6 linked regions of the Homo sapiens genome follow. The protein of the gene in region 1 purifies or fractionates together with the protein of each later gene. This does not show direct contact. Each region holds a gene or a part of one and is shown on either strand. Other genes may lie near its edges.

Region 1 (4,225 bases):
TAACCAGGGTTGCCCCACTGATCTGATGTAATGCAAGCCAAAAGCCTGTGTAGCCTTATCATGGGTAAATGTATGATTTCCCTTAGGTGTTTTTTGAATTATCAAAAATGGAGGGGCCCCATTCCCTTCACAGACCCATGGGGGCCTGAGGAGCCGTAGTTGGAAACTTCAGATTATGTAGTTGGACCCACTTGTTTTATAATTGTAGGATACTGTATGAAGCCCAGAGGGGCCTCATGACATGTCCAAGGTCACATAGCCCTTTAGTAGAGGAGCTGGACGAGAATCCAGTTCTCCTGACTGTCCCTGCCTGTCAGCCATGCTTAGAGGAAGAAGAGTCTGTCTGGGGAGTAGGTACTGGGTGGTACAGAAAATTGTGAGAGAAGGGCTTGGGATAAGGCCAGCATCAACCCGTGGTGGGCGTGGGCCCCAGAAGAGTGCCTCAGGCCTGAGGGAATGCCAAGGGCTGTGGGTTGTGGGGGGAAGGGGAGTTGGCAGCAGACCTCAGTGCCCTCTTCCCCCAGCACCGCTTTGTGCTCCGGGAGCGGCCACCCACAGTCATCATGGACCTGATCCAGAGGACCAAGGATGCCGTGCGGGAGCTGGACAACCTGCAGTACCGCAAGATGAAGAAGATCCTGTTCCAAGAGGCACCCAACGGCCCTGGTGCCGAGGCCCCAGAGGAGGAAGAGGTGACCCAGCTTGCCCTAACACCCCTCTTTATACCCCATGTGTGCCTGCCCCCTGCAGTTGCTTGGCCCCTTCCCCAGCCCTACTCACACCACCATCTTCCCATGCTACCTCCATGCATATGCCCCAGGGCTTCCCCTTCCCTGTCCAGCAGCCTACGCCCTGTTCGCAGGAGGCCGAGCCCTACATGCACCGGGCCGGGACTCTGACCAGCCTCGAGAGTAGCCACTCAGTGCCCAGCATGTCCATCAGCGCCTCCAGCCAGAGCAGCTCCGTCAACAGCCTAGCAGATGCCTCAGACAACGAGGAAGAGGAGGAGGAGGAGGAGGAAGAGGAGGAGGAGGAAGAAGGCCCTGAAGCCCGGGAGATGGCCATGATGCAGGAGGGGGAGCACACAGTCACCTCTCACAGCTCCATTATCCACCGGCTGCCGGTACACAGCTCACCCTTGGGGGACCCGAGCCACCTGCTCTAGAACTGCCTGGGTCTTCGCCCTCCTTCCCTAAGTGCAGCACTCCTCTGAGTCTGATTGGCTGTCCTCAGGTAGCTCTCTTTGGACCCAGTGGCCTCTGAGCCTTGGGTGTTCCTTCTATCTCCCTCTAGGGCTCTGACAACCTATATGATGACCCCTACCAGCCAGAGATAACCCCCAGCCCTCTCCAGCCGCCTGCAGCCCCAGCTCCCACTTCCACCACCTCTTCCGCCCGCCGCCGGGCCTACTGCCGTAACCGAGACCACTTTGCCACCATCCGAACCGCCTCCCTGGTGAGTGTAGCCATCCTCACTCAGCCTGCTCGCTGTCTGTTTTTTAAGTCTTTTTAAGTCTAGAAATGATTTCCTCCCTGTGGCATGGGATTGAGTCTGGATTCTACCCTCATTTTCTGTTGCTGGCTCCTGCCTGCTCCCCTTAACCCTCCTGCTTCCCTCCTCTTCCCAGTGGACTGTTTTGGTCATATGGCCCAATCTGGGTGTTTCTAGCTTGGCAAACTCTTACTCCGTTTTTGTGGCCTGACTTAACTGACATCTCCTGGGTTGCCTTCCCAGGCTCCTCTGGTGAGTCAGATGCTTCACAGTTGTGTGCTGGGGAAGCCCAGTGCTGGGGGAGCCCTGTGCCTGTGGAGCCCTGTGCTGGGGGTGTCCAGTGCTGGGGAGCCCTGTGCCGGGGGTGCCCTGTGCTTGGGTGGTCCTGAACAGCATCATGATAGGTTTGCCAGATTCTGTGCCCCAGAGGGCAGGGATGGTGTTCAGATATCTGTCTCATGCCAGCAGTTAGCTCTCAGGCTTACACACAGGCCTGTGTTAACCCTCCCAGCCCCCCTGGGAGGGGAAGGGTAAGATCCCATTGGAGAAATGAGGCACCTGTGGCTCAGAGGGGCCACTTGCCCCAGTGCCTTTGGTGGCTCTCTGCTCCTGTAAGCAGGCCCTTAGTCCTCTCCTAAAATCAACTCATGGCAGTCTTTCTCAGTTCACAGGAAAAAGTGTTTAGGCTTTTCATAAAACATAGTTTTTCATCTATGTTTTTAGATCACGTTCCTGCTGAGCTGCATTTGAGCGTCAACAATCCCCTTAGAGGCCACTGATTAAGTCTAGTATGTTCTTATGGCCTCTGCTTGGTGCTGGTTGTGTTCCAACAATTCTTCAGATCCCATGGTGTTGTGCGGTACTGTGCTGAGAGGTCTTGACTGCCAGGGGCTTGGCTGCCGGGACTAGTTTGAGAGCCACTCATAGAGTCAATTGAGAATGAGACCTGAGATCAGACTTTGGATGAAGGTGTCCAAGCCCAGTGTTCTTGTTATTCCAGCATCTTGTGGCCCCGATCCCACCTCAATACCTGGGGAGTGATAGGCCGACCATGTTTGCTGAAGGGGAAGGAAGCCAACACTTATTAGATAGAGTCCGAACTTACCCCACAGCCCCTATGAGGAGGTATTATTTCCCCATTTAACAGATGAGGGAACTGGTGCTTTGAGAAGTTAACTTACTTGAGATCACATGCTTGGTAAGTGGCAAAGCTGGGATTTGATCCCAGGTATGTCTGACTCACTGTTTCAAATTAGTATGGATTGTTCCTACTTTTGTGCCAGGCCCTGTGCTCGCCACCTTTTATCATTCGGCCACACCAACTTGTGATGTAGATAATATCACCATTATCCAGTTGAGGAAACAGGCTAGAGTGGCCGTGTGTGAGGAAGGTGTTAAATGAGAATGAAACCCATGAGTTGAAAACCCATGCTCTTCCCCACGGAAGACCCCTTGTGTTAATTAACTAGGGGCCAGGCTGAGCCCCAGCTCTCACCCTCTCTCCTTCCCCAGGTCAGCCGTCAGATCCAGGAGCATGAGCAGGACTCTGCGCTGCGGGAGCAGCTGAGCGGCTATAAGCGGATGCGACGACAGCACCAGAAGCAGCTGCTGGCCCTGGAGTCACGGCTGAGGGGTGAACGGGAGGAGCACAGTGCACGGCTGCAGCGGGAGCTTGAGGCGCAGCGGGCTGGCTTTGGGGCAGAGGCAGAAAAGCTGGCCCGGCGGCACCAGGCCATAGGTGAGAAGGAGGCACGAGCTGCCCAGGCCGAGGAGCGGAAGTTCCAGCAGCACATCCTTGGGCAGCAGAAGAAGGAGCTGGCTGCCCTGCTGGAGGCACAGAAGCGGACCTACAAACTTCGCAAGGAACAGCTGAAGGAGGTGAGCTAGGGCTGCTTGGGGGCGGAGCCGATGGCGAGCCAGGTGGGTCCTGACCCTGCTTCCCTCTGCACTCGCCCAGGAGCTCCAGGAGAACCCCAGCACTCCCAAGCGGGAGAAGGCCGAGTGGCTGCTGCGGCAGAAGGAGCAGCTCCAGCAGTGCCAGGCGGAGGAGGAAGCAGGGCTGCTGCGGCGGCAGCGCCAGTACTTTGAGCTGCAGTGTCGCCAGTACAAGCGCAAGATGTTGCTGGCTCGGCACAGCCTGGACCAGGACCTGCTGCGGGAGGTAGGCATCCCAATCTCTGTTCCCCTCCCGCTCACTCGTGGATCCCAGGGACCCACCCTTTTCCATTTTCCTCATTCTTGTCTTCTTTCTCCTTGGCCCTCGAGTGTTACAGTTCAGCTTTGCTTCAGTGCCCCTTTTACTTCTCATCCCCAACAGACCCTGCCAGAATTTCCTTAGGCCTCTTTTCCCAGGCCAGGGAGGAGCTTGCCTCCCCTACACCCTCATCTCCTGCCATCCCCAGCTCCCTCTGCCAAGGAGCCCTGGCCCCTCACTTCCTTGATACTGACCAGGCCCTGGGCCCTGTGTTTCTTCCGCCATCCCCAGCTCCCTCTGCCAAGGAGCCCTGGCCTCTCACTTCCTTGATACTGACCAGGCCCCGGGCCCTGCATTTCTTCTGCCTCAGGACCTGAACAAGAAGCAGACCCAGAAGGACTTGGAGTGTGCACTGCTGCTTCGGCAGCACGAGGCCACGCGGGAGCTGGAGCTGCGGCAGCTCCAGGCCGTGCAGCGCACGCGGGCTGAGCTCACCCGCCTGCAGCACCAGACGGAGCTGGGCAACCAGCTGGAGTACAA
Region 2 (5,212 bases), on another chromosome or scaffold:
TGGAAAATGCAGGAGAGTTGGTAGATACATGATCTAGGTTGGAAATTTATAACTTGATTAAAAACAATCAGCACAGTTTAGGGCAATGAACTTTCATAAACCAGACTGGGGCGAAATCTCTTTTTAAAAAAATCAATCATTAGGTTGATAAATGTACATTTGGAGGAAAAAAAAATCCTTTTCCTTTTATTGTGAAAGACTGTCTACCATGTACTTTGACTAAAACACTCACGTAAAAACATGGCTGCAGGATACGTCTCAAAATATGACAAACGTTATTTCACCTATACTGTGACTTTACATGTAAACTTCAAAAATCACATGCTGTACATCAAATTTTTAGATTCAAAAGATATCCCTGTTTTCCTAATAATGTAAACAGTAAAACTGAGGGTTTCAGTTAAAGGGATAATTCGTAACAAAATCCCATTGTTGAAACAATGGTCAAACATAAACATCTTATAATTCAGATCTGCATTTGGTAACAGGAGAATTGAGAGTTTTGATGCTTTGCTGGTTTTCCCACAGTGGGAGATGTAGATACCATTGCCCCAAACTATGCACTTTTCAGGTAAGCTTTACTTTTATTTTGTAGCATTAATTCCTATATTGCAACGTAAGGGTGAACAATGAAGGCTCCAGGCAAGAAAAGAGAAGTAAGCAGTTTTCCTGGACATATTGGCCGAGGTGAAAAATGTATAGAGAATCACTGGGGCATCAGCTGCTTGTTGCGGGAGGGGTGGGGGCTCTGGACACCAGGGGGTCCTGACAAGGCTGGGGCCAGAACCCTGAACCAGTACACACGGAGACGCCAGCATTCTTCCGTCCAGTGCTGGGGGCTCAGGTTATCAGTGTTAGGGAGAGTGTCTGCGTGCGGGGTAGAAATGGAACATTCGCTGTAGGTTTTTTCCTTGGAATCATCATCATTATTATAATAATCATCATTATTATCTTCATTATTCTGAATACTGTCTCACATCTTTCAACTCCAAAAAAAAAAAAAAAAAAAAAAAACTGATCCACAGTTTGTTGTGTGATGCCAACACGGTGCCTGACATCATGCACTTCCTTCTCCCCTCCCCCACACGTGTGTTCATTCACTCACTCACTCACTCACTCATTCATTCGGCCATAGCTGGAATCAAAGGGTCTTTGTTGGGACACATACTGACCGAAGTGGATCTGTTTTAATTAATTTATGACTTTTAAAATGCACACGCGCGCACACACTCACCCCCCCCCAACACACACACACACACATATACACAAAGTCAGAAATAGCTAGAACGATGCTGGGAAAATCAGGTAGCTGTAAAGCGAGTAGCCCCCAAATCAGTCATCTTGGCCTGAAGATGTAAACAAGGAGGTTTGCTTCCTGCAAGATGAGTACTTCACTGAGTTTGGTTTTCATTTTTCCTACACCGAAGCCACCTCTGTCCATCCAATGTTCATGTCTGTCCGAGGCTGCGCAGGAGGTTACGTCAAGATGTGGCCAATAAAGTCCAAAAAGCGCTTTGAATACTGTTCTGGGTTCACGGTGGAGATCTCCGCGCCAGCCTGGGCAGTTTTTAAAAAAGGAAATATTGACATAGTGTTTATGATTTCCCCAAATTATTACTCAATATCTACAGCTATTTCCAATGGCAACTGAATATACAGCAAGCAATTTTCAAATCCATGCAGTCTCTGCTCTGAAAAACATCACTCAAAATATCTTGGCGCTCATGGTTGAATAAGCAAGGTTCTTACAAATCTGTGTCTGCAAATGAGACAAAGGGCGACAGGAGCACCAGATGCTACCACACACACCGGGGCTGTTGCAACTCACAAAAAAATCAAACAGGCCACGTTTGGGATGTTACTATCAAAGAGTGGAATTGTTCAGAAGTCACGGAAACAATACTTATGTTATACTTTTCAAGAAGGCAGACTGGAGCCACCTTGAGAATGACATCAACATTTGGCGAAAGGGAAACCTTAATGACGATGACTTAAAACCGCATGATTTCTTCAGGACCCCTTCGTTTCTGGACAGAGGCCCCCAGCTCAGTGCTCAAACATGAGGGGCAACAGCAGCAGCCACAGGTTCTGGGACAGCTGCCCCCAGCCCATTCCCTGCACCGTAACCAGGTGAGGCACAACACTGCTGGCTCCATCTTGCCCACGGGGGAAGGAGCTGACTTCCCTCTGCAGCAGCACACAGGGGTGCCACTGTTCCCCTTTCTGAGCCCTGCAGAGAGCAAGCAAGCCTGGCCCCCTGCAGAAGCACGGTGAGGGATTTTTCCATGATGAGATGCAGGGTGCAGGCCAGCACACTCAAGGGAGTCACTCACTGGCCAGTTTCCTGAGCTGCAAAGGGCAAGCACGGAGTTTTGCTAAGTGAGCATGTGCTGTTTTTAGACACCCATGTTCACCGGGGAACTTGTAATATTTCCAGGCCTCGGCTGCATGGAGGAGCCCAGGCTTGAATGCAGAGAGAATGGTCCCCCACAGCAGCTTAACACAGCGTTCCTTTGCTGACAGTAATGTTTTCTTCTTGCAAACTACCTGTGATTTTATGCCGTGTGGCACACTATGGAGGCGAACTTGTGGCTTATGGGGAGATGAACATGGAGCCATATTGGCTAGGATAGGAGAGATGAACATGGAGCCATATTGGCTAGGATACACTCCAATTTCACAGGATGTATAATATGGGAACAGACATTTACAAAGCATTTGTCCAGACAACTCTTGTATCTCTGGCAAAACCCCATCAGCAAGGCAGTAGGATTTCTGTATGAGGTGAAAAAACAGGAGCTCCAAAAGTGTCCCCTTGAGGTCATACAAGTGGGAAGGGTCAAACGAGGATTCCTCGCCAGTTCTCTCTTTGCCACACTCCATGGTTTTCAACCAGAGGTGAGCATCAGAATGACCATGGAGTCTTCTGAAGACCCCTCCCTCACCCTCCTGAACTGGCCTCAGAAATGACGGAATGGGGGTGGTGCACCTGGTGCGGATGTTTGTTTAAAAAGAGTACTCAAAAATTTCTGTTGGGGGGAAGCCACCAGGCACACTTGCTTACTGACGTGCTCGGGGGCGGTGAGGTCCCAGTCTGTGCTCTGCACACAGCAGGAATACCATAGCTATCGACAATGTGACTGAAATATTTCTTTGGCAAATAGAATACTGTGTTTGTTAGGCTGATTTCTATTTTAAAATAGAAAAGAAGAGGTTTCAAGTGAGTTTTTGGTTCTGGTGAATCTTCATTAGTTCTACACAGTCTGTGGGAAGCACCTCTTCTTCCAGGGCCAACAAACCAGGGAATACATTCATCTGTGTGGGGTGGGCTCTATGGCTTTCAGGACCTCTGCAAAACAAAGATGGCACCCTGCAATACAAGCCTGAAACTTGGCGAGCTGTAAAGTTCAGCCAGGCAGGAGGTGTTTGCAGGCAGGGCAAGGGGATGAGCATGAACACAGAGCCAGGAGGGGGCTGGGTCCGGGGGAGGAATCTCATCTCTGCCACTTGCTACTATGAGGCCCTGGCAAGTTACTCCTGAAGCTATTTTCCTCAGTTTCTCCAACTGACAAAAGCAGGTACACTACTATCTCTTTCATAGGCTTCTCATGGGGGATAAAATAGCTTAACATATGGCTAGAGCAGTGAAAACTCCCATCAAGCAACATTAACGGTGAGTAATATTATGCAACTTTGATTTTGCACTCAAGAGATTTCTGTAGTAGAAAAAATACAACTCACTGTGAGAAAAGAAATATTAATCCTGTATACTTGGGAAGTGTCTTAAGCAGACAATCATGCTTCAGTTTTGAATATTTCATATTAGAACACTTCATTATCTTCTTTTGCACTTTTATCTCTGGAACATTTTTCAAACAAAAAAGAATTTGTGTAACATCCTAGTGATGCGCATGCCTGTTAGTGTCCGCCATGTGTAAAAAGAAGAGATGTTCATGTTTAAGTGACTTCGCTGGAAGCCACAGGGAGCTGTGGTAAGAGCAGCAGTGAGCAGTAAGCGTTTGTGGGTTCTGTATCTTACGCTCAGAACATGACTTGCCCCCAGGGAACAAGCGTCACTAAAGGGCTTTGAATGGCTCAGTAGAAAGCAGCTCAGTGGCAGAAAGGAGTGATCCCTGAGTTACAGGTCACACAGAGGAGCCAGGAGAGAGAGAGAGAGAGAGAGAGAGGGAGAGAGAGAGAGAGAGAGGGAGAGAAAGAGAGAAGGAAACAAAATGGAGATACTCACGCCATGTTTAACAGTTTTTGCAGCATGGGCAGCTTTCTTTTTTGCATCATAATGAGTAAGGATGTCAATAATTGCCATGAAGTACACCTCCTTCCTAGGCGAGTCTGCAGAGACAGGAGAGCAATGACTGTGGGACATGTGACAACACCAGTGCCAGCATTGCTGCTGAGGGAGGGAGGGAGGGAGAAGTGAGCCTGGAGGGAGGGGATTCAATGGAACGCGGATGGAAGGAGTCCAGAGACAAACTCTACACCACCCCTGCGGATCCTGACTAAACACACAGCTTGCCTCTCTGACCCAGTCCCCCTGCAATTTAAAAAGAAACAACCCTAACAACTAAAAACATCATCACACCAGGGTATCAACAGTGGAGATCCAACGGTGGAACGGAGTCTTTTTTTTTTTTTAATTTGCATTTTCTTTAATAATTGTGTATTGCTTTGGTGTGAAGAAATATGCTATTTAAAAATACCCTATAAAACAGAACTAATTATGTACACTAATCCTTTACATCAAATGGTAGAACTGTTCATAATTCTCACTGGATACAGTATCAGAACTGGATAAAGGCATACATCCACTCCAATGTCTATTTTCTTTTTTTGAGACAGAGTTTTGTTCTTGTTGCCCAGGCTGGAGTGCAATGGTGCGATCTTGGCTCACAGCAACCTCCACCTCCCGAGTTCAAGTGACTCCTGCCTCAGCCTGCCGAGTAGCCGGGATTACAGGCATGCATCACTATGCCCAGCTAATTTCATATTTTTAGTAGAGATGGGGTTTCTCCATGTAGGTCAGGCTGGTCTCAAACTCATGACCTCAGGTGATCTGCCTGCCGCGGCCTCCCAAAGTGCTGGGATTACAGGCATGAACCACTGCGCCCGGCCCGTGTCTGTTTTCTATCCATTTCCAAAAATATGAACAGTAAGAAAAGTACATTTGACTATCTAATTTTCTGTGTTGAAGAAA
Region 3 (5,212 bases), on another chromosome or scaffold:
AACAAGCTGTTTTAAGTGTTTAAGTCTTTAACCTGGCAAACCACCTACTGGAAATTTTCAAAAGCCACTGACAATGGTCTTCTATATAGGATTACTGAAGAAAATAAGGAACCACAGGAAAAGGTACAAAGGGCAAATATTTTCTGTAGATATGATGGCCTTGGGGGAAGACACAGGTGTGAGAGGAAAGAGCCCAGGGGTTGAAGCTTGTTGGGAACTGGAGGGGGCAGGGCTCTTCTTTCACTCAATGTAAATGGAAACAATGGCTGATGCTGCATGGACTCTTAATGCTACCATCATTCAAAACAAAATAAAACAAAAACAAACTCTCAAAAGGTTTCATCCCTGGGAAAAACCAAACCAAAGCAAAACCATAGCTCCCTGACTTGAGCTTCCTCACCTGGCTCCAGGCACTTTAAAAAAATTAAAGACCAAAGTTGTCATTGGACTGTGAAGAGAAACCAAATAATAAAGAAGAGTGATATAAATAGAGATTTATACTGTATTTATACTAACAGAAAAAAAGCTAAGACTACAGAAAGTGGGGTCCCCAGCCATAGGCAATGGGACAAGTCCGTGCCTTTCTGTTTTACCTCACTGACTTGAGGACACTCTGGTGTAATACCAGAACATCACTGTGGGTACAAACAGGCAAATGATGGAGAAACAAAAAAAAGTAACAGGAAATGAAGAAGCAAAACCTGAAACAATATATGTATATATAACAATATCACCTGTGTAAAATAACATCTGTGCATGTAGTGTACATGTAAAATAATATCCATAATATAAAATAACAGCTATTTTACATCTTTACAGGTAAAGGAATTTCAAAATAAAATAATTTGGGAGTTAGATTTTTTTTTCAGTTGTTTCCTGAAGTGACTGTTATTGAGATGTCTCTAGTGTGTAGTTGTACAGTTGATTAAGAATATAATTCAAAAAAATTCAGGAGATTTAGGTAAAAATGAAACAATGTAGAAAGAAGGTTCTAGAACATTTAGGGGTAGCCACCAAAAATTCGTAAGTCCCATGAGGACTGGAATCATGTCTGATTTGTTCACCACAGTATCCCCAATGCCCAAGACTGCTAGGTACACCATAGGTGCTCAATAAATATTTGCTGAATGAGTGAAAAACCAACCAATCACCAGCATTCCTCTTTCCCTTCAAAGCTTAATAAATATCTGCTATAAAAGGCAACCAACCAGGTGCAAAGAGAAGCAAGCCACCTGAAATCAAAGAAGCCAGTGAAATAAAGACATTTAACTTCTCTGTCTTCAGAAGTGTTAGCACTTGGAATCCTAAGTTATTAGTGTAACAAGAACTGATATTTACTGACAATGTATTATGTACCAAACACTATACTAAATGCTTTTCATATATTTTCTCACTGAGCCCTTCCAAAAATTATCTGAAATAGGCACTGATATTATCCCCATTTTCAGATGAGGAAACTGAGGCACAAAAAGGAAAAGAAACTTTCTTCAGATCTCAAGTAGCAAGTGATGAAGCTGACACCATATTCCAATAGTCTGGCTCCAGACCCCTTTGTTCCACAACAACCACCCTCACAGGTCCCACACCCATTTCAAAGCCCAGCCTCTCACCTGGGCAGCACAGATGCTGTACTGGGTAAACATAGCCTCATACAAGGCCATCAGCCCACTCTGTCCGGCAGCTGCACAGGCTCGTGCCTCTAAGACTGGAATTGCCTGTAATATACCAATGAGACAAGGTGTGGTAGGGAATGAGGGAAGAAGACCTGAAGATCCATTTCAATGTGTGGGGAAGCAGCACTCACCATTTCTTTCAGCTGGTTCTGCCCCGAGTGGAGGGCCTGCCGCACGCTCTGAGACAGAAGGATCTCATGGCGCAAGCGTTGTTTGCCAAAGGCTACGGCTCCACTGGTCACCAGCATCATCTCTCTGCCCTGATTCTGCAGCACTGATACCTGGGCATTGAGAAAGGAAAGGGGACTGTAAGTTACCGTACTGTCTCTTTCATCTCTTCACAAGGGATGGAGGTAGGGTGGGCTATCGAGTAGATCCCAAATGCTGGTTTATGAACCAGCATGTGGCTGGCTCTGGAAGAATCAGCCAGATTGGTAAAAACACAGATTCCTACATCCTGTCTCAAATTTCTATTTAGCAGGTGGCAGACAAAAATCAGACATTTTAATTTATTTTTTAATTAAAACAATTGGCTGGGCATGGTGGCTCATGCCTGTAATCCCAGCACTTTGGGAGGCCAAGGCAGGCACAATGCCTGAGCCCAGGAGGTTCAAGACCACCCAGGCAACATGGCAAGACCCAATCTCTACAAAAAGTACAAAATTTAGCCAGGCATGGTAGTGCATGCCAGCTACTTGGGAGGCTGAGGTAGGAGGATCACCTGAGCTCAGGGAGGTTAAGACTGCAGTAACCCATGATCGCACCACCACACTCCAACCTGGGCAATAGAATGAGAGAGATGCTGTCTCAAAAACAACAACAACAACAACAACAACAACAACAACAACAACAACACCCTAAGAAAAAAATTTTTTTAAGGCAGAGTCTTGCTCTGTCGCCCAGGCTGGAGTGCCGTGGCATGAATGTGGCTCACTGCAGCCTTGGCTGCCTAGGCTCAAGTGATCCTCCTGCCTCAGCCTCACAAGTAGCTGGAACTACAGGCTCATGCCACCATGCCCAGCTAATTTTTCTTTTTTAACACATTTTTGTAGAAACAGAGTCTCACTATGTTGCCCAGGCTGGCCTCAAACTTCTGGTCTTAATCCATCCTCCTGCCACGGCCTCCCAAAGCATTGGGATTACAGACATGAGCCACCATGCCTGGCCTAAGTAAGACATTTTTAATGAGGAAATTCTGGTGTGTAGCCAAGTTTGACATCTATAGGACTTGACTGTATTAGGTTGGTGCAAAAGTAATTGCAGTTTTACCATTGACAGTAATGGCAAAAACCACAATTACTTTTGTGCCAACCTAATATTTGCAGGGAGTGTGTAATGCAGAAGGCCTAGTTCCTCCAAGAAATGAAGCCCAGAATAAAAGTCCGCAGGTAGGAAATGCAACGCAGACTCAGTAGATGGCTTCTCAGGTTCTAAGGCTTAACCCGGGTAAAGGAGGCTGTTCTGGTGGCATGTCTAATCCTATGGGTTGCCTCTGCCTACACCAGGGGCACATGCTGACCTTGTTCTGCTCTGTCTGCCCAAGACCAAATGCGGTCACTTTGTTTCCTACCTTAAGCAGACCTACATGAAAAAATTAAAGACTCAAGATGTAATAAAGTCAATATTCCTAAACTGTCCTTTCCTTCTGATGTCTGAAACCTTTTAACTGGTCCAGCTGTTTAACAAACAGCTATGATAAACCATGATTTAAAACAATAATAACTTTTTTTTTTTTGAAACACAGTCTTGCTTTGTCACCCATGCTGGAGGACAGTGGCACAATCATGGCTCACTGTAGCCCTGACCTCCAGGACTCAAGCAACCCCCTGACCTCAGCCCCTTGAGTAGCCACCTTGGCTTCCCAAAGTGCTGGGATTACAGGTGTGAGCCACTGTGCCTGGCCCCGACAATAATATTTTATCACAGAAAGTTTCAGCTGGCTGAGGTGGGACGACTGCTTGAGGCCAGGAATTCGAAACCAGCCTGAGCAAAATAGTAAGACCCCATATCTATGAAAAATTAAAAAAAATAATAGCCAAGTAGCATGTGCCTGTAGTCCCAGCTACTCAGGAGGCTGAAGAAGGATCCCAACTGAGCCCTGGAGTTCAGGGCTGCAGTGAACTATGATTACACCACTGCATTCCAGTCTAGGTGACAGAGCAAGACCCTCTCTCTAAAATAAATAAAAAGAAAAAGAAAAAGAAAATTTAATACTTAACCAAAGTGCTGAGAATAGTATTATAAATCCCCATGTACATACCACCCAGTTTCACCAACTATCTCTCATGGCCAACTTCCCACTCTCCAATAACCCCTCTATACCCTCACCATTGTTTTAATACAAATTCCAGGCAACAGACATGTTATTTCATCTGTAAATAGCTCAGTAATAACTGCTAAAAGATAATCATATATATTATATATAATATATAATTATATGTCTTTCTCTCTCCACAAATCCATTATCTGGAATATTTCAATGATTTCCTTCATATCAAATAGCCAGTGTTCATATTTTTCCAATTTTTTTTTACCTTGCTCAAATTGAGATGCAAATTAAACCCTGCATTACAAATTAATTGAAGTGTCTCTCAAGTCTCTTTCATTCATGGGTTCCCTTCTCCATCAGTTTTCCCCCTTGTAATTTTTTGTTAAACTGAGTTGTTTATTCTTTAGGATTTCCCAGCCTACATTTTCCCAATTGTGTCCTTATGGTATTAATACTGCTCTTTGTATACCCTATAAACTGCTGTTTGGTATGAAGGCTTTTTTTTTTTTCCCCAACAAGTCTTTATAAGTTGTGGTGTACATGTTCATCAAGGGGATACATAATGCCTGGTTATCTTTCTTTTTGTGATGTTAGCATCTGTTGATGATCATTGCCAAGATCCATTATTCCATTAGGAGATGCAAAATGCTGACACTCTAACTCAATGATTCCTTCGTCATTTATAATCTGGAATAATTCCAAAAGGGAAACTCTCCTTTACCAACTATTTGGTTACCCTGAGGTACAGTTTGTCTATGAAAAGCAGGACAAATGTGTGTCTCTTCCCCTTTACTCATCCATTTTCAATATGAGTAGCTTCTCTAGTGGCCTCCAAAAATGGCCAATGAAGTTTTTTTTTTAAGTATAATTATGAACTCATGGATTTAAACATATTTTGTTGTATTGTGCAGTGATTCCCTTTTTTCTTTTTTTTTTTGAGACTGAGTCTCACTCTCGCCCAGGCTGAAGTGCAGTGGTGCGATCTTGTCTCACTGCAACCTCCACCTCCCAGGTTCAAGCAATTCTACTGCTTCAGCCTACCAAGTAGCTAGGATTACAGGCAGGTGCCACCATTCCTGGCTAATTTTTGTATCTTTAGTAGAGATGAGGTTTCACCATGTTGGCCAGGCTAGTCTTGAACTCCTGACCTCAGGTGATCTGCCCACCTTGGCCTCCCAAGGTGTTGGGATTACAGGTGTAAGCCACTGTGCCCAGCTGTGATTCCCTTTCTTGATGTTTACATCATCCCATTTATGGCCAGTGGAAGCCA
Region 4 (5,212 bases), on another chromosome or scaffold:
ATATAAGAAAAAGAAAGTAAACTAGCTTAGTAATAAATATTTTATAATGATTACATGTTGAAATAATATTTTGGATGTACTATTAAAATAATTTTACCTGTGTCTTTTTACTTTTTTTTAAATGTGGCCGCTTAATATTACATAGGTAGCTCATAGTTGTTGCTGATATTACATTTCTGTTGTACAGCCCTACTCTAGAGACTTACTGTACATGTTGAATGCATTCTTTAATATAAAACTTTTATCTGGTCCTCCATCCCAAATATATATTATGGTGCCCAAAACTTTAATTTTTATTTTTGCATTCCTTCCCATCAGTAGCTCAAATAACCTGTGTTTTAGGTAAAGTATTTTAATGTTTAAATGTGGAATACATTTATATTTTAATTGGAGTTGAAACTATAAGCCCATTCTGCTTGATTTCTTCCATGTCACACAAGTTTATTGATAACACTCTTTTCTGGTAGCACAAGTCATGTCACTAGGTATCTCATATTACTTTAATAATCTACATTACGTATGTTAGAATAGAGCTTTTTTGATTTAATATTCTGTGATTCAAGGTGAGTACATATATATTTAGTAGCTTCATTAAATTGCATCCTGCCAAATCATTGGGTTAATGAAGCAACACCATAATCATTTTCTTTTTTTTTATTGTTGTTTTCTTCTTTGAGTGTCAGTTTGGCTTTGGAATGGCATATTTGGTCATTAGGGAGACATGATGCTATCTTAAGCATCTTTGTGGCCAAAAGAAGAAGGAAAAGTAATCTGTACAGTAGTATTGCTAAGAGAAAAGTCAATATTTCAGCTTTTCTAATGCCAGGAACAGAGAGAAGAAGACCCTGTCCGAAGGAGTAGATAGTATCTTCAATGACATTCATAAAATAAAATAATAAATTTCCTGAGGGTTTTTCTTGTAACATCCTAACATATAAGCTAATTATCTAACACTTAAGTACAATTATGTGACCGTGATAGATGTGGTTTGATCCATGGATAAAGTTTGTTGTCTATGGCATAGATTACTTATTTTGGAAGAAAACAAAGTAACTAATTTTACACTGATGTATTTTTAATTATCACATTTAGTTTGTTACATTTCAAGTGAAATTGAAGGAGGACATGTTAAAAATGTAAAGATGCTTGTATTTTTTAAATTACAACTTTTGAAAAAGATGAAAGAAACCTCACCAGTCATAAAATCTTTTATATTCATAATTCCAATTATTGGTCCGCAACGACAATAATTTTCATCATGGTTTTTGTTATTTGGAGGGAAAAGAGGATTAAAATAGTTTTTCCCAAGATAATACCATTGAATATTTTAATGTATATACAGTTAACCTTTGAACAGTGTGGAGGTTAGAGGTGCTGACCCCCTGCAGAGTTGAAGATTTGAGTATAAGTTTTGACTTCCACAAATCTTAACTACTAAAAGCCTACTGTTGACCAGAACATCTTACTGGTAGCAAAAACAGTTGATTAACATATGTTTTGTGTATCCTATATATTACATACTGTATTCTTAAAGTCACAGAAAAGAAAGTGTTATTAAGAAAATCATAAGAGAAAATATATTTATTATTCATTAAGTTGAAGTGGATCATCATAAGGTCTGCATCCTTGTCGTTTTCACATTGAATACGCTGAGGAGGAGGAAGAAGAGAAGGGGTTGGTCTTGCTAGCTCAGGGATGTCAGAAGTAGAGAAGGTGAATGGGGAGGCAAGAGAGGCAGGCACACTTAGTGTAACTTTACAGAAATATGTTTAATTTCTGACTTATTTGCTTTGTCATTTCTCTAAAAATGTTTCTGTACAGTACCAATCTTCCAACATTTGCTTTAGTTTCAGTGCTTGTATCAGAGAAGGGTCCATGTCATAAAGCAGCCTTGAATAAAGAGAACTCTTCTGCTGGGTTGTCTAATGTCCATTTGTTTTCTGGCACTCCTTTGTCTTCTTCCTCATTGTCCATTAGCTCTTAAATTTCTCTGATATCCATATCTTGAAACCTTTCATCCTCTACGTTTTTTTTAACCATATCTACAATCTCTTTCATGATTTCCGTGGCTCTGTTGTAAATCCTGTGGAGTCATGCACAACATGTGGACACAGTTTTCTCCAGCAGAAATTTATTGTTTTAGGCTCGATGGGTTTTTCTATAACAACAGTAGCATCAGTGGTGTAATTCTTCCAGACTTTCATGGTATTCTTTCTACCAAGGATTGTTGACAGCCATTTCCATAGAGGCCTTATGGTTCCATGTATAATGAGCTTTAAAGGTTCTTGATCCCCTGATGTAGAGGCTGATTTAGAGGTGTGGTGTTTTGGGACAAGTAGGCCACTTTGATGCCTTTCAGTGTTGAACTCATGGGGTTCTGGGAAGCAAGGGACATTATCCAGTATCAGAAGAATTTTTTTGAACAACAATAATAATAAAGGCTAGGTGCGGAGGCCCATGCCTTGTAATCCTAGCACTTTGGGAGGCTGAAGTGTGAGGCCAGAGGCCAGAAGTTCAAGACCAGCCTAGGCAACATAGGAAGACCTTGTCTCTAATTAAATATACAATACATATATATGTGTGTGTATGTATATGTAGATATCTCTGATATCTATATATATATCTGATATCTCAATATATATCTGATATCTGTAGATCTAGCTATATAGAGATATATAGGTATCTCTATAGATATATATAGACAATCAGAAGAACTTCAGAAGACCATCCCTTCCTGCCAAGATGCTTTCTAACCGCAGAAACAACGCATTGATGGTACCAGGCTAGAACAAGGGTTCTCTTTGTCTAGGTCTTCTTGTACAACCACAAGACTGGAAGCTGGTGTTTTTCTTCTCCCTTCAAGGCTTGAGGGTTTAGCAGCATTATAAATAAGGACAGTCCTGATCATAAACCAGACTTCATTTGCACAGAACAGTAGAGTTGTCCTATCTCTTCCTGCCTTAAATTCTGGTGCTCACTTCTCTGCTTTACTAATAAATATTCTTTGTGGCTATTTTTTCCTTCAGAATAGGGCACTTTGATCTGTATTAAAAACCTTTTCAGGCAGATATTTTTTTCCTCAAAGATTTTCTTAATGGTGTGTGGGGACTTATTTGCTGCCTCTTGGTCATCAGAATCTGGGTCTCCTGTTATCTTGACATTTTTTAAGCAAAACCTCTTTCTAAAATTATCAAACTATCCTTGGCTGGCATTAAATTCTTCAGCTTTAGACTTTCCTTTTGCTTTAAGTTGTCATAGAATGACTTTGCTTTTTCTTGAATCATATTAGGGTCTATAGGTATGCCTTTCTTATAGATATCCTGCACCAACATAAAAGCTGCATTTTCAACAGGAGACAAAAAGGTATTTCACAAAACATGCAAGGTTTTTGTACCTGCTGATGTAGCTGCAGCAATGGCTTTGTTTCATGAATTTCCTTTTTTTTTTTTCTTACAGTGAGTCTTAGACTGTATTCAAGCAATTCAGTATCATGCAATACACCTTCTTGTAATGTCATGACTTTGCTTCTTGAGCACACTTCCAACATCACTAGTGGCACTTTGTCGGGTCCCATGGTATTATCCCATGTTTAAAGTATTGCACTAAACACGATGAGAAAAATATGTGAGGGCTGGGAGGTATTACTTTGTACTGGGATGTGCAGTTTGCTGGAGAGATGAACTGTTCACATGGAGTTGATTAGAGTCACATGGCGTTTTAATCATATACTTACTAATACTTGAACTGACTGCAATAGCAACAGGAGGTGGCTTCAAACTTATTACATATACACGTGTACTACAGTTAATTTTGTGCAGTTATGATTTAATATTGCATCTGTATATTTGTTTATATTTCTTTTAACTGCAAATAACACCATGTACAGTCTGTTTGCGTGTGAGTTTTGATAAATTTTAACTTTTTAATAATTTGTATCTATTTTATAGTAAATACTAAAATAGACTAGTGGATAACTATATTTTATGCATTCATAACATGTGTTTTTATTATTTTTTTCACTACTTATAGGCTACTCAGTTTGTCTATAAGTTTTTTCAAATTGTTGCTGATCTCCAAAAATTTTTCCTATATATTTATTGAAAAGTATCTGCATGTAAATGGACCTGAGCAGTTAAAACCAGTTCTTCAAGGGTCAGCTATATTCTACTTGATTCCCTCTCCCCCTTATCCTCTATGAGAGGTTCCGATAGGTTGTCCGTCTTCCAGACTGAGAATCACTGATCCACAAGAGTGTATGTTGCTGCCCTTCGGTTTATTTTTTTCTTACAGCTGGATTCTTTACAAAGATTAGACACCCTACAGGGTTCATGTTGTATTCTGAGGGAAAACCTAAGAGTTGTAGATTGTCTCCCTGATTTAAGACCATATTTATTCATTTTGTCAGTCAGAGCCATTTGGTAAATTCAAGCTTTTGAAATAAGAATTAGCTTAACCAGGTTTTTAGCCAGGAGGTACTGAGACTACTCCTTCCAAACTATGTACTGAGGTACCTGGTGGCCCATAGCAAATTCAGAGGGGTGCCACGAAGTATTTTAAAATTGTGAAGGTGTACAGTGATACTCAACATCTGTTTGACACTGCATGGACTCCTAGCTTGAGATGGATTGCAATTTAGCATATTGGATTGTCCTTCACTGCTTTCATTGGTGTTAGATCATTGAGAAGCTGGACTTTTTGGCCAGTGCTATGATCTAACAGAAGTACCAGAAAAAAATATATCTGCAAGAGGAAATGAGAGGGGCAAGGTCCAATCTAAGACCAATGTTTGAGAAATTATGAAGTGCCCAGTAGGCACACACATCCCAGTAATAAGTGACAATAGTTATTTAAGAACAGAGTAAAAATTGTTTTTTTCAATTTATGTGTATTATTTTTTTAAAGGCTAGGTAGTTAGGACACTATACTTATTAAGTTGTTTAGACCTAAGTATTTAATAAACAGCACTGTGAGGTGTATCTTTTGGCACTAAGGACACTGAAAACTGAGAAAGTTAGGGACCTTTGTGAGACTTTTGTAATGCTCTAGCTTTAGCATTTTGGGGTCCCAGACCAGCTTGGTATTGAAAACTTTATTCTCAGACTTTCAGCATTTTAACCTTTCAGTACTTTATTATAACTTAATCAGAGATATGCTTTTCTTTTTCTGTCCCCTGCAAGCACATAGAGAATGTTCCCCCTCTCCCCAAGATAAT
Region 5 (4,959 bases), about 55 Mb from region 1:
TGTCCCTTAAAAACATCCCATTTGGAGAACCTTCCACCAAGCCCCAGATCACCTTGGCAAGCCGGCCACATAGGACCAGGAGTCAGTCTTGGGACTGTACGTCTCTACTGAAGAGAGCGCTCCGTTCTCATTCCGGCCGCCGATGGCCACCAGCATGTCTTCGATGGAGGCAAGGTAGAAATCCACACGGCGCTGGTTCATGGAGGCCACCTGTGGAGTTGAGATACCTGTACCTTCCCTTCCCCGAACCCGGGACAGCATCAACATCTGGCGCTGCGGTTCCCAAATGTGTCTGCGGAATGCACAACCCCGGAGAATGTTTGGGAAAGGGAACTGCACCTGAATAAAGAGGGCTTCTTCAGGTGGGAGCTCTGAGCCCCCGAGGTTTCACCAAGATGCTCTGAATCCCCAAAAGTGGGATGGAGACGCTCTGAGTCCCCAAAAGGGGGATGGAGATGCTCTGAACCCCCGAACTTCTCTGGTCATGTCGTTAGCCGCGTGGATGGGAACTCTGTGGTCACAGGGGTCAGAATTGCTGATCTAGTGGCTTTATGAAATAAAAATTCATCTTTCCTCTCCCCACATCAGATTTGTAAAGTTAGTGCTGCTCTGCCACTCCGTGTTAACAGAGCAGGACGTGGCATTCGACAGGAAATTAAACAGAAGAGGCTGGGCGCGGTGGCTCACGCCTGTAATCCTGGCACTTTGGGAAGCCAAGGTGGGTGGATTACCTGAGGTCACGGAGTTCGAGACCAGCCTGGCCAACATGGTGAAACCCCGTCTCTACTGAAAATACAAAAATTAGCCGGGCGTGGTGGCAGGCGCCTGTAATTCCAGCTACTCAGTAGGTTGAGGCGCCAGAATTGTTTGAACCTGGGAGGCAGAGGTTGCAATTAGCCGAGATCGTGCCACTGCACTCCAGCTTGGGTGACAGAACAACTCTGTCTCACACACACACACACAAAAAGTAGAAGAGCCAACTTTTTTTTTTCTTTTTTTAAACGAATCCAAGGCAAACACACTGCTGCCACTGCTGCCAGGCTTCGGGAGGAGGCTCCAAAGCCAGGGACCCTTTCCAGTGGTGACACTTCGACCTTGGAGGGCAGTCTCAGATTTCTGAGAGTAAAATCAAAAGGTCAGCTGGAGTCCATTCTGACTGGGTTTTGAGCTGAGAACAGCACTGAGCTGGGCGCGACGCTGAGGTGTGAGTATAGAGGCTGAGATGGACTGTCCCGGGGACCGAGTGGCTGGAGAGCGCTCCCAGCAGAAAGGAGACACCTTCCCTACGCCAGGGGCTTGCCAGTCAACATGAGCTACTGCACTCCCTGTCCCCCACGTATTCCCAGAAGGGGAATCCAAAATGTGGAGAGGACAAGAATCTGAAATTTCCTAGCTATGACTTAGCCAGGCTGGGATGAGACCTCAGGTCTGACATCAAGGCCCACGCTCTTCCCAGAATCAGGACACAATACATGCCCAAGGGCCAGGCGTGAGCACTAGTGGTCTCCTTAAACTATCTCCCAAAATGCTTCCAGAGGAGCCCCACAGAGACTCCAGGACCTGGGGATGTTGAACCATGGATCAAACATCTAGACCCATGCTACTGTCCAATAGGGTAGCCACGCCTCGTGCGGCCACATACACTTACACGTCAATCGGTTAAAGTGAAATAAAATTGAAAATTGACTTCTTCAGTCGCACTGGCCACATTTCAAGTGCTCAGTCGCCACATGCGGCTGTGGCTACCGTATCGGGAAGTACAGACAGACCCTTCCATCTGCACAGAAAGCCCCGCCAGGCAGTGCTGCTCTGAACGATGACGGACCCCTCGAAGGGGTGGGTCGGCTCTCCCTCTCCCTGTCCAGGATGTAGGCCCCGGGGTATTCTGCTCGTCACTTTATCATCACACCTCATTCAGAAGCAGGATAGTTGTCAAGGCCCCAGAGAGGTAAGGAAAGTCAAGGCTAGGTTAAGGAAACCGAGAGAGTCCTCAAGAGAAAAGAAATAATCTGGCTTTAATCTCACCTTGATCCACTGTTTACAGCGGGGGTCATACCTATAAAGAAGATTGGAGGCCGCATCCCCTCCGTTGTCCCGTGAGAAGCTGCCGCCGGCGATGAAGATGAAGCCCCCCAGCACCGCGACACAGTGGTGGCTCCGCCGGGCGGGCAGCGGCGTCTCTTTGACCCACTGCTCGCTCTTGGCGTCCAGGTAGCAGGTGTCGTCACTGAGCTCCAGACACCGCTCGGAGACCTCGCCGCCCACAAACAGCAGGCGCTCCTGGTTGGTGCGCAGCGCCGTGCGCTTGGTCTGCATGACGGGCTGGGCCGCCAGGTTGTTGTGGTAGCGCACGGCCTCCTCGATGAAGCCCTCGCAGTTGGCCTCCTTGGGCAGCAGCGAGCACACGGCCGGCTTGACGCGGTGCAGCAGGTCGTTCTTGGGGATGAGCGGGAAGTGGATGTTCTCCAGCACCTGGCGGGCGTGGGCCTCGCGCTCGGGCTGCTGCGTCAGCCACTGCAGGGCGGCCTGCAGGAGGTCGTGCTCACACTCCCGCTGCACCTCGCTGCTGCTCAGGTAGACACACAGCTTCTGCATGGAGACGTTCTGCAGGAAGTCGGGCGTAAAGGACAGCGTGCCGAAGTGGTTCAGGATGAAGCCATCGATGAAGGCATCAAGCCGCTTGAGGCTGTAGATGGAGGCCAGCTCCTGCAGGTACAGGTAGTTGTCCTCGCTCACCTCCTGCTCCAGGTACTCACAGCAGAAGTCTACCACCGTCCAGATCTGCAGCAGGTGAGCCGTCTCCAGGACGTAGTCAATGTTGCCGCCATCCAGCACCAGCTCCCCGCCGTACAGGAAGTCCACCACGGCCTTGAGCCCAATGTAGGAGGCGCCGATCAGCTCCACCTCCTTCTGGAAAGCTTCCCGCATGCCGATGGTGAACATGGAGTTGAAGTAGTCGCTGCACACGGCCAGCAGGTTGCGATGGGCTGGCACACGCTGCTCATCGGCCACCAGGACGACGTCGCAGAAGAGCCCGCGGAGACGCTGCTCGTTCAGCCGCTGCAGCACCGTGCTTGAGTGGTCGGCCCAGCGGTATACCTGGACAGAGAAGACACATTAGAAACGGCGCAGCAGCCTGCTCGGCCCTGGTCCAACCCAGTGGGTCCTGACCAGCATTTTCAACAAAATGAAACTGAAGAAAACAGGAAATAAAATGCTGCATCAGAGGGCACTGCAGGAAGTACAGGTGTTTCTGAGTATGCCTGTGTATCGTGGTTTTTTTTTTCCTTCTCTTATTAATATAACTTCTTTCTTTCTTTCTTTCTTTTTTTTTTTTTGACACAGAGCCTTGCTCTGTCGCCCAGGCTGGAGTGCAGTGGCACAACCTCAGCTCACTGCAACCTCTGCCTCCCGGGTTCAAGTGATTCTCCTGCCTCAGCCTCCTGAGTAGCTGGGACGACAGCCCGGCTACTGGAGTTTGAGAGCAGCCTGGCCAACATGGTGAAACCCTGTCTCTACTAAAAATACAAAATTTAGCCAGGCATGGTGGCGTGTGCCTGTAATCCTAGCTACTCAGGAGGCTGAGGCAGGAGAATTGCTTGAACCCAGGAGATGGAGGTTGCAGTGAGCCAAGAGCACACCACTACACTCCAGCCTGGGAGACAGAGCAAGAACTCCGTCTCAAAAAACAAAAAACAAACAAACAAAACAAAACAAACAAGAAAAAACAAAAAACAAACCAAAAAAACCCAAAACCAAACAACACAACAATTCAAGCCAGGCATGGTGGCTCATGCCTGTAATCTCAATGCTTTGTGAGACTGAGACGGGAGAATCACTTGAGGCCAGGAAGTTCGAGACCAACCTGGGCAACATAGCGAGATTCCTGTCTTAACAAAATATTTAAAAATTAGGTGGGCGTGGTGGCATTCGCCTGTAGTCCCAGCTGCTCAGGAGGCTGAGGCAGGAGGATCGCTCAAGCCCAGGAGCTTGAGGCTGCAGTGAGCCATGATTGTGCCACTGCACTCCAGCCTGGACGACAAAAAGAAACCCTGTCTCTAAATAAATAAATAAATGAATTCAACATAGGGAGAAACAGGTAACTGAAAACTATCACATAGATAGCTGGTCTATTCCAGGGTGACTGAGGTGAAGAACTGGCTGGGCACTAGCCTGAAGAGGGGAAATGTGGTTGGAGGAAGAAAACTGACCGAGGGCTATTAGGTATTAGCAGCTATGTGGTTCGACTTTTTTTTTTTTTTTTTTGAGACAGGGTCTCACTCTGTTGCCCAGGCTGGAGTGCAGTGGCACAATCTCGGCTCACTGCACCCTTGACCTCCTGGGCTCAAGTGATTCTCCCACCTCAGCCTCCTGAGTAGCTGGGACTACGGGTGTGTGCCACCATGCCTGGCTAATTTTAAAATTTTTTTGTAGAGACGAGGTCTCACTATGTCGCCCTTGACCTCCTGGGCTCAAGTGATTCTTCCGCCTTAGCCTCCTGAGTAACTGGGACTACAGGCACACGCTACCACGCCTGTCTGATTTTTATAATTTGCAGGGACAACGTCTCCCTAAACTGCCCAGGCTCTGAATTCTTAAAAGTTGCTTCTTAACATGTGTCCTACAGCAGTGGGTTTTATTTTTTTCTTCCCTTTCAAATCTTCTTTTTGTTGCCATACATGCGTTTGTCATTGAGACACTTTATTTCCCTGTGGTATTTCCACATCCAGTCAATTCCAACAGCAACTTCTCTGTCCATGCTACAGGAGCAGGCCACATTCTCACAGCCTGTGGAGGATGCCAGACAGATCCGACTTGGCATTTCCTTCTGAGTTCAGAGGACGGGCTCTCCCGCTCTTCCATTCCAGGCTGGCTTTTCAGTTCACAGGTCACACACGTGGAGATCTCTATTTATCCTGGTTACCCACAAAGAGAGCCAGGCTGGCCTACACCGGGCTT
Region 6 (5,212 bases), on another chromosome or scaffold:
GCTCTCAACACAAAGACAAAACTTTAACGTGGCCTATAAGGCCCGTCCCAATCTAGTCTCTACCTACTTTCCACACTTGACATTTTCCCCTCCAACCCCATGGCCTTTGCACAAGCTGTTACCTCTCCCAGGAACATGCTTTCTTCCCTTCTTGCCATGCTAATTCTTACTCATCCTTCATATCTCTGACAAGCATCACTATCTTAGGGAAGGCTTCCCTGACCTCCCTGACAAGGCAAAATGCACCAATTATTATCAACCCCATAGCCCTTCTTAGCATCCATCACAGCTATGGTTTTACTTTTTAATATGAGTCTGCCTCCCTCACTAGACTGAAAGTTCCATGAGGGAAAGGACCATGTTTGGTTTTATTCATGATTGTATCCTTAGTGCCTGGCACACACCTTGGGCACATAGTGGCCACAGAATGAGAAGTGTGTTGAATGAGTGATGGTAAGGTGATCTAGGATGAAAACAGGACATGAGGGAGAGGAGAAGGCGGTGAAGGAAGATATGCCAATGTCTTCAAACGACAAGGCGGAGTGACTGGGAAGTGAAAATGGATGAGGAAGAGTGGAGAAGCAGACAGCTTATGATAGAAGCCCCAGGGGTGTGGGGCTGGATGCAGGTGGGGATATTCTGGGAGCACTGGGCTTGGCATAAATGAAAACCAGACAGACTCTCCCAGAGGGATCCACCTCTTTGTCTTGACTGGATTGTCCTCAAGATAAAGAGAAAGCACCCCTATAATCAGCATCAAAAGGGGTCATGATTCTTCTTGGAGGAGGCAGGATGGTGTCATTCACTACAGGAAGCCAATGACAAGGGGGCAGATGGCAGCACCTCCGAGCTGGCCACTGAATCCCTGAAGATCTGCCACAATCCGCCTCCTGAAGAATGTCCGAAACGCCACACTCAAAACCATCACACGATATCTCACTAACAGCTCTTTGTGATTCTTTCTCAGACACTAACAACCAAAAGTTTAGGCCTGAATTCAAACCCTTCCCATGAAGACACGTACCTTGGTCCATCCAGGAAACTGGATAAAGGTGTCCTGGGGCAAGTCTGGGATCCCACTGGGAATGGAGAAGTTCCCCATATAAAAGGCCGGGAGCGTGTAGTTGGATGAGTTGTGGGCCCAGGCTTCATCATGGTGGCCACTGTCACGGTGTCCCCAGCCCCCCAGGTGGCTGCACACTGCATCCTCAGTGTCCAGTGGAAAGATCGTCCAGTCCGTGAGGATATTGGAACTGAGAGTCAGGTTAGAAACCAAACCCTGCAAAGCAGAAACAGAGCACAGTGAGCTGGGGAGGGAAGGAAAAAGGCTTCACATGTCTCTGCATTCCAGGGAAATGGGAAAAGCAAACCGGGATACAAAACACCAACAGGAAATGAACCTCGAAATATGTGTACATCGAAGTAACACAGATCTAACTGGAGGTTGAATTACAAATCCTTGGGAAGAGATATATTCCCCAAACTATAGCTTTCTCCTTTGCAGGTCATGATGTCTCTATAAAAGGCCCAGAGTTTCTGCTTCTACAGAAAGGGCATTGAGTTGCTAGAGTGATTGATCCCAAATTCCCAAATTTTCAGAGTTTGGCTGAGAGCCACTGCTAGAATAGAGAAAGATGGGCACCAAGAAAGATGGGCCAGGCGCAGTGGCTCATGCCTGTAATCCCAGCACTTTGAGAGGCCAAGGCAGACAGATCACTTGAGGTTAGGAGTTCAAGACCAACCTGGCCAACATGATGAAACCCCATCTTTACTAAAAATACAAAAGTTAGCTGGGTGTGGTGGCAGGTGCCTGTAATCCCAGATACTCAGGAGGCTGAGGCATGAGAATCGCTTGAACCTGACAGGTGGAGGTTGCAGTGAGCTGAGATCGCGCCACTGTACTCCAGCCTGGGTGTCAGAGCGACACTCCATCTCAAAACAAAAAGGGATCCAGTCTCTACAAAACATACAGAAATTGGCCTAGTGTGGGGGCATGCACGTATAGTCCCAACTACTTGGGAGGCTGAGAAGGGAGGATTGCTTGAGCCCAGGAGACAGAGGTTGCAGTAAGCCGAGATTGTGCCACTGCGCTCCAGGCTGGGTGACAGCAAGATCCTGTCTCAAGATGGAATCTGGGGACAGAAGGAATGAGTGAGTGTGGGATACAAAGGAATAGTCATCCCACTGCGGATGGAGCAGGTACGACGGATGCAGCCAGGAGCAAATATTGGCCTTGAGCACCTCAGCCATCATCACAGGGAGGACCACACCCGAGTCACTCACCTGTTATGAGGGCCAAGTGAGATAACATACATGAGAATACTGTGATACCTTAAGAGGATAGGAAGGTAATGATGACGATGGCAAACCTCAGACCTGAATTCAGAAGCTGCTCTATTTGTTCCACACAGGCCAGGGCTGGGCTGTCAAGGCTCAGCTAACTTCCCCTTCCCTGGCTTGTATGTAGGGAACTTCCCCATTCCCAGTGGAATCCCAGATACCAAGTCTCGATTGCCCATTTAATAATTTGATAAATATTAACCAGGTGGCTGTATGTCAGGCTCTTTGACAGGTACTGGAGACCCAGAGACTACACAACAGAGTCGAGTCACTCCCATGGGTCAATGTGGCCTGTGAGAGCCAGGCAGGAGGCCATGAAGTCCACCCTGAGCACAAGAACTATGAGAGAGACATTTATACTGGAGGCAAAGGTGGCCTGCACACAGCTATTCCCTAAGTTCCCTAAGATGTAATTGCCTGATCTCAAGAGGGTCAGGAAATAGCCCCAGACACCTGTCCTGCCCTAGCCTGGGTGGTGCCATTGTTCCCTTGATAAGGCATTCTCTCCTCTCGCGGAGGTTGAGCTCCCTGAGAGAAGCCTGTCTCTTGACACCTTTGCATTCCCCAAAGCACCTGGTGGGGCATCTCGCGGAGTGGGAGCTTAACAAATGCTTGCTGAATAATGCTCTAAAAATATGTGTTAGAAAAACTTATTTGGGCTACACATCTGGACACAGGAGTAATCAACAGAGGTGAGAGCCAGTGCCCCAAGGGAAGAGGCTTCCTACAAGTGAAGAGTTTGCCACAGGCTAACCATCCAAACCCATAAAACAGGGCAGAACAGAGGCTCAGCTGGCTTTACTGGCAAAGGAGTGCCTTCAGTGAGCTTGGTGGTCTTTTAAAGCAGAGGAAAAGCATGGTGGAGGGGCTTCCTCCTTCTGTTTCTTTCTATAGGATGACCAAACTCAAACACAGGGGAAAGGTTCTGTTTGCAAAGCTCAACTTTCTCATCACCTACAGAGGAAAACAGCTCTTCAAAATAGCTCAACTACTTCTTTTTTTTGAGACAAGGTCTCACTTTGTCACCCAGACTAGAGTGCAGTGGCATGATCATAGGTCATTTTAATCTCCAACTTCTGGACTCAAGCAATTCTCCTGCCTCAGCCTCCTGAGTAGCTGAGACCACAGGTGCATGTCACCACACCTGGCTAAGTTTTTAATTCTTTGTAGAGGTCTCACTATTTTACCCAGGCTGGTCTTGAACTCCTGGCCTCAAGTGATCCTCCTGCCTTGGCTTCCCAAAGTGCTGAGATTACAGGTGTGAGCCACTGTACTGGGCTTCAACTTCTAAGTTGTCACCCCTTAAACCTTAGTCTTGACAGTGTGGTTTGTCCTACCTTAAAATCGTTGATATATGCACCATAGTTCACACGTCCCATGTTCTCTACCAGAAGGTCCAGAGTGGCTCCAGCTTTCCCTGTTATGTTCAGAGTGATCACATTGTTTCGCTCAAGGACTCCCTGGGGGATCTGTGGGGTTCAAGACCAAATGACAATTGAATTGAGGGTAAGAAGGTCAGCAAGGAGAGGCAGCATGCTCAGTTAATTTAGCACTCATTTTCTTGCCTTGAAGTGTCACCAGACTTGGAAAGAAATGCTTTGATAGCATCTTAGCCCAAGTTACCGGCCAGGTCGGAAAGATCCCCCAATCACTGCTTCCTAAACAGGAAAACTGCCAGACACAGCTCAGAGCATGGAACGGTCTAAGCTGGTTTCCTTTGCCCTGGAATGTTTTACTGCCAACTACTTTTAGTGGAAAATTCCAGGGGAGGATTCTTACTAGAGTAGCTGCTTCGTGTTCTGACAGCACAAAAGTCACTCACAAAAAATTGCTTCTGAACAACATGGAGAGATAAGACAAAATCAGACAAAAGAGATAAAATCAGAGAAGTTAGGTGGAGTATTCTCACCTCAAAATACTTGACATGATGCATTAACCACGAAAATCATACAACAGAATGAGGAAAAACAACAGGTATTTTATCAACAACATATTCCTAACTTTTTAAAAGGTTAGACTTTAAAAATTGACCTTACAATGATCATAATTCACTAAGACAACACCCAAGTTAGAAGCGAAGAAACAGTCACCATCAATAGAGCAGAATGTCTTAGTAATCTGCTCCCACTGAAATGAAAGCTGTTGATTACAAGAGAATGGGAAATATTTTAAAATCTTCTGAACAAATTTTCTTGGTGAAGAAAATCTTTTCCTGTGTTCCTTCCTGTGACCATTTCGGTGAGAGGACTGGAAGTCCTGAAATGCATCTGCTTTTGTTATGAAACACGGTTCTTTGTGCATTTCAGTAATAGTTGTCACGAGCAGTCCTTCAGAATATAATTTCTCATGTAGGATAAAGGCACGAAGTTCAACAAACTTTGTACAGTGGCAGGTACAAAATTGAATTGGAAATGGACCCCACCCTTAAGGAGCAAAGAAAGCACAGGCAACATCAGTCACAGAAGGGCGGCCTTGGCTGGGGAGACCCCGAAGGCTTCTGAGAGGGTGGCGCATCAAGCACAGCCCTCTGGGTTAAGATGGTGGGTAGGGTGGATTTCAGCAAATGGCACATGCATGAGGCCTCACAGCAAGCAAGAGGCACAGCTAAGGGTCACCAAGAAGAGGGGTGGAGCCCACCGTGGTGGGTCATGCCTGTAATCCCAGCAATTTGGGAGCCTGAGGCAGGAGGATCACTTGAGCTCCGGAGTTCAAGACCAGCCTGGGCAACATAGTGGGACCCTGTCTCTACAAAAAAAATCAAAACATTAGCCAGGCATGGTGGTGCACCCCTGTAGTCTCAGCTACTTGGGAGGCCGAGGTAGCAGGATCACTTGAGCCTGGGAGGTTGAGGCTGCAGTGAGCTGTGATTGCA

Evidence for each region.
Region 2: the proteins of TAOK2 (region 1) and PIP4K2A purify together in Homo sapiens (affinity purification with mass spectrometry; one large-scale study listed by BioGRID and IntAct). This does not show direct contact.
Region 3: the proteins of TAOK2 (region 1) and ALDH18A1 purify together in Homo sapiens (affinity purification with mass spectrometry; one large-scale study listed by BioGRID and IntAct). This does not show direct contact.
Region 4: the proteins of TAOK2 (region 1) and PDCD10 purify together in Homo sapiens (affinity purification with mass spectrometry; one large-scale study listed by BioGRID and IntAct). This does not show direct contact.
Region 5: the proteins of TAOK2 (region 1) and KLHL36 purify together in Homo sapiens (affinity purification with mass spectrometry; one large-scale study listed by BioGRID and IntAct). This does not show direct contact.
Region 6: the proteins of TAOK2 (region 1) and GLB1 purify together in Homo sapiens (affinity purification with mass spectrometry; one large-scale study listed by BioGRID and IntAct). This does not show direct contact.

Annotation. Positions count from the first base shown.
Region 1 is NC_000016.10:29,982,210-29,986,434, forward strand, and holds part of TAOK2 (serine/threonine-protein kinase TAO2), read left to right. Parts: intron 1-524; coding exon 525-692; intron 693-841; coding exon of another isoform or gene 842-862; coding exon 863-1,123; intron 1,124-1,293; coding exon 1,294-1,455; intron 1,456-3,003; coding exon 3,004-3,369; intron 3,370-3,448; coding exon 3,449-3,652; intron 3,653-4,055; coding exon 4,056-4,225. UniProt on the Homo sapiens protein: Serine/threonine-protein kinase involved in different processes such as membrane blebbing and apoptotic bodies formation DNA damage response and MAPK14/p38 MAPK stress-activated MAPK cascade.
Region 2 is NC_000010.11:22,535,725-22,540,936, forward strand, and holds part of PIP4K2A (phosphatidylinositol 5-phosphate 4-kinase type-2 alpha), read right to left. Parts: intron 4,351-5,212; coding exon 4,247-4,350; intron 1,558-4,246; coding exon 1,477-1,557; 3' UTR 1-1,476. UniProt on the Homo sapiens protein: Catalyzes the phosphorylation of phosphatidylinositol 5-phosphate (PtdIns5P) on the fourth hydroxyl of the myo-inositol ring, to form phosphatidylinositol 4,5-bisphosphate (PtdIns(4,5)P2). Has both ATP- and GTP-dependent kinase activities.
Region 3 is NC_000010.11:95,635,483-95,640,694, forward strand, and holds part of ALDH18A1 (delta-1-pyrroline-5-carboxylate synthase), read right to left. Parts: intron 1,955-5,212; coding exon 1,805-1,954; intron 1,716-1,804; coding exon 1,611-1,715; intron 1-1,610. UniProt on the Homo sapiens protein: Bifunctional enzyme that converts glutamate to glutamate 5-semialdehyde, an intermediate in the biosynthesis of proline, ornithine and arginine.
Region 4 is NC_000003.12:167,698,722-167,703,933, reverse strand, and holds part of PDCD10 (programmed cell death protein 10), read left to right. Parts: intron 1-5,212. UniProt on the Homo sapiens protein: Promotes cell proliferation. Modulates apoptotic pathways. Increases mitogen-activated protein kinase activity and STK26 activity. Important for cell migration, and for normal structure and assembly of the Golgi complex.
Region 5 is NC_000016.10:84,655,011-84,659,969, reverse strand, and holds part of KLHL36 (kelch-like protein 36), read right to left. Parts: intron 3,100-4,959; coding exon 2,026-3,099; intron 211-2,025; coding exon 53-210; intron 1-52.
Region 6 is NC_000003.12:33,013,032-33,018,243, forward strand, and holds part of GLB1 (beta-galactosidase isoform a preproprotein), read right to left. Parts: intron 3,810-5,212; coding exon 3,678-3,809; intron 1,280-3,677; coding exon 1,025-1,279; intron 1-1,024.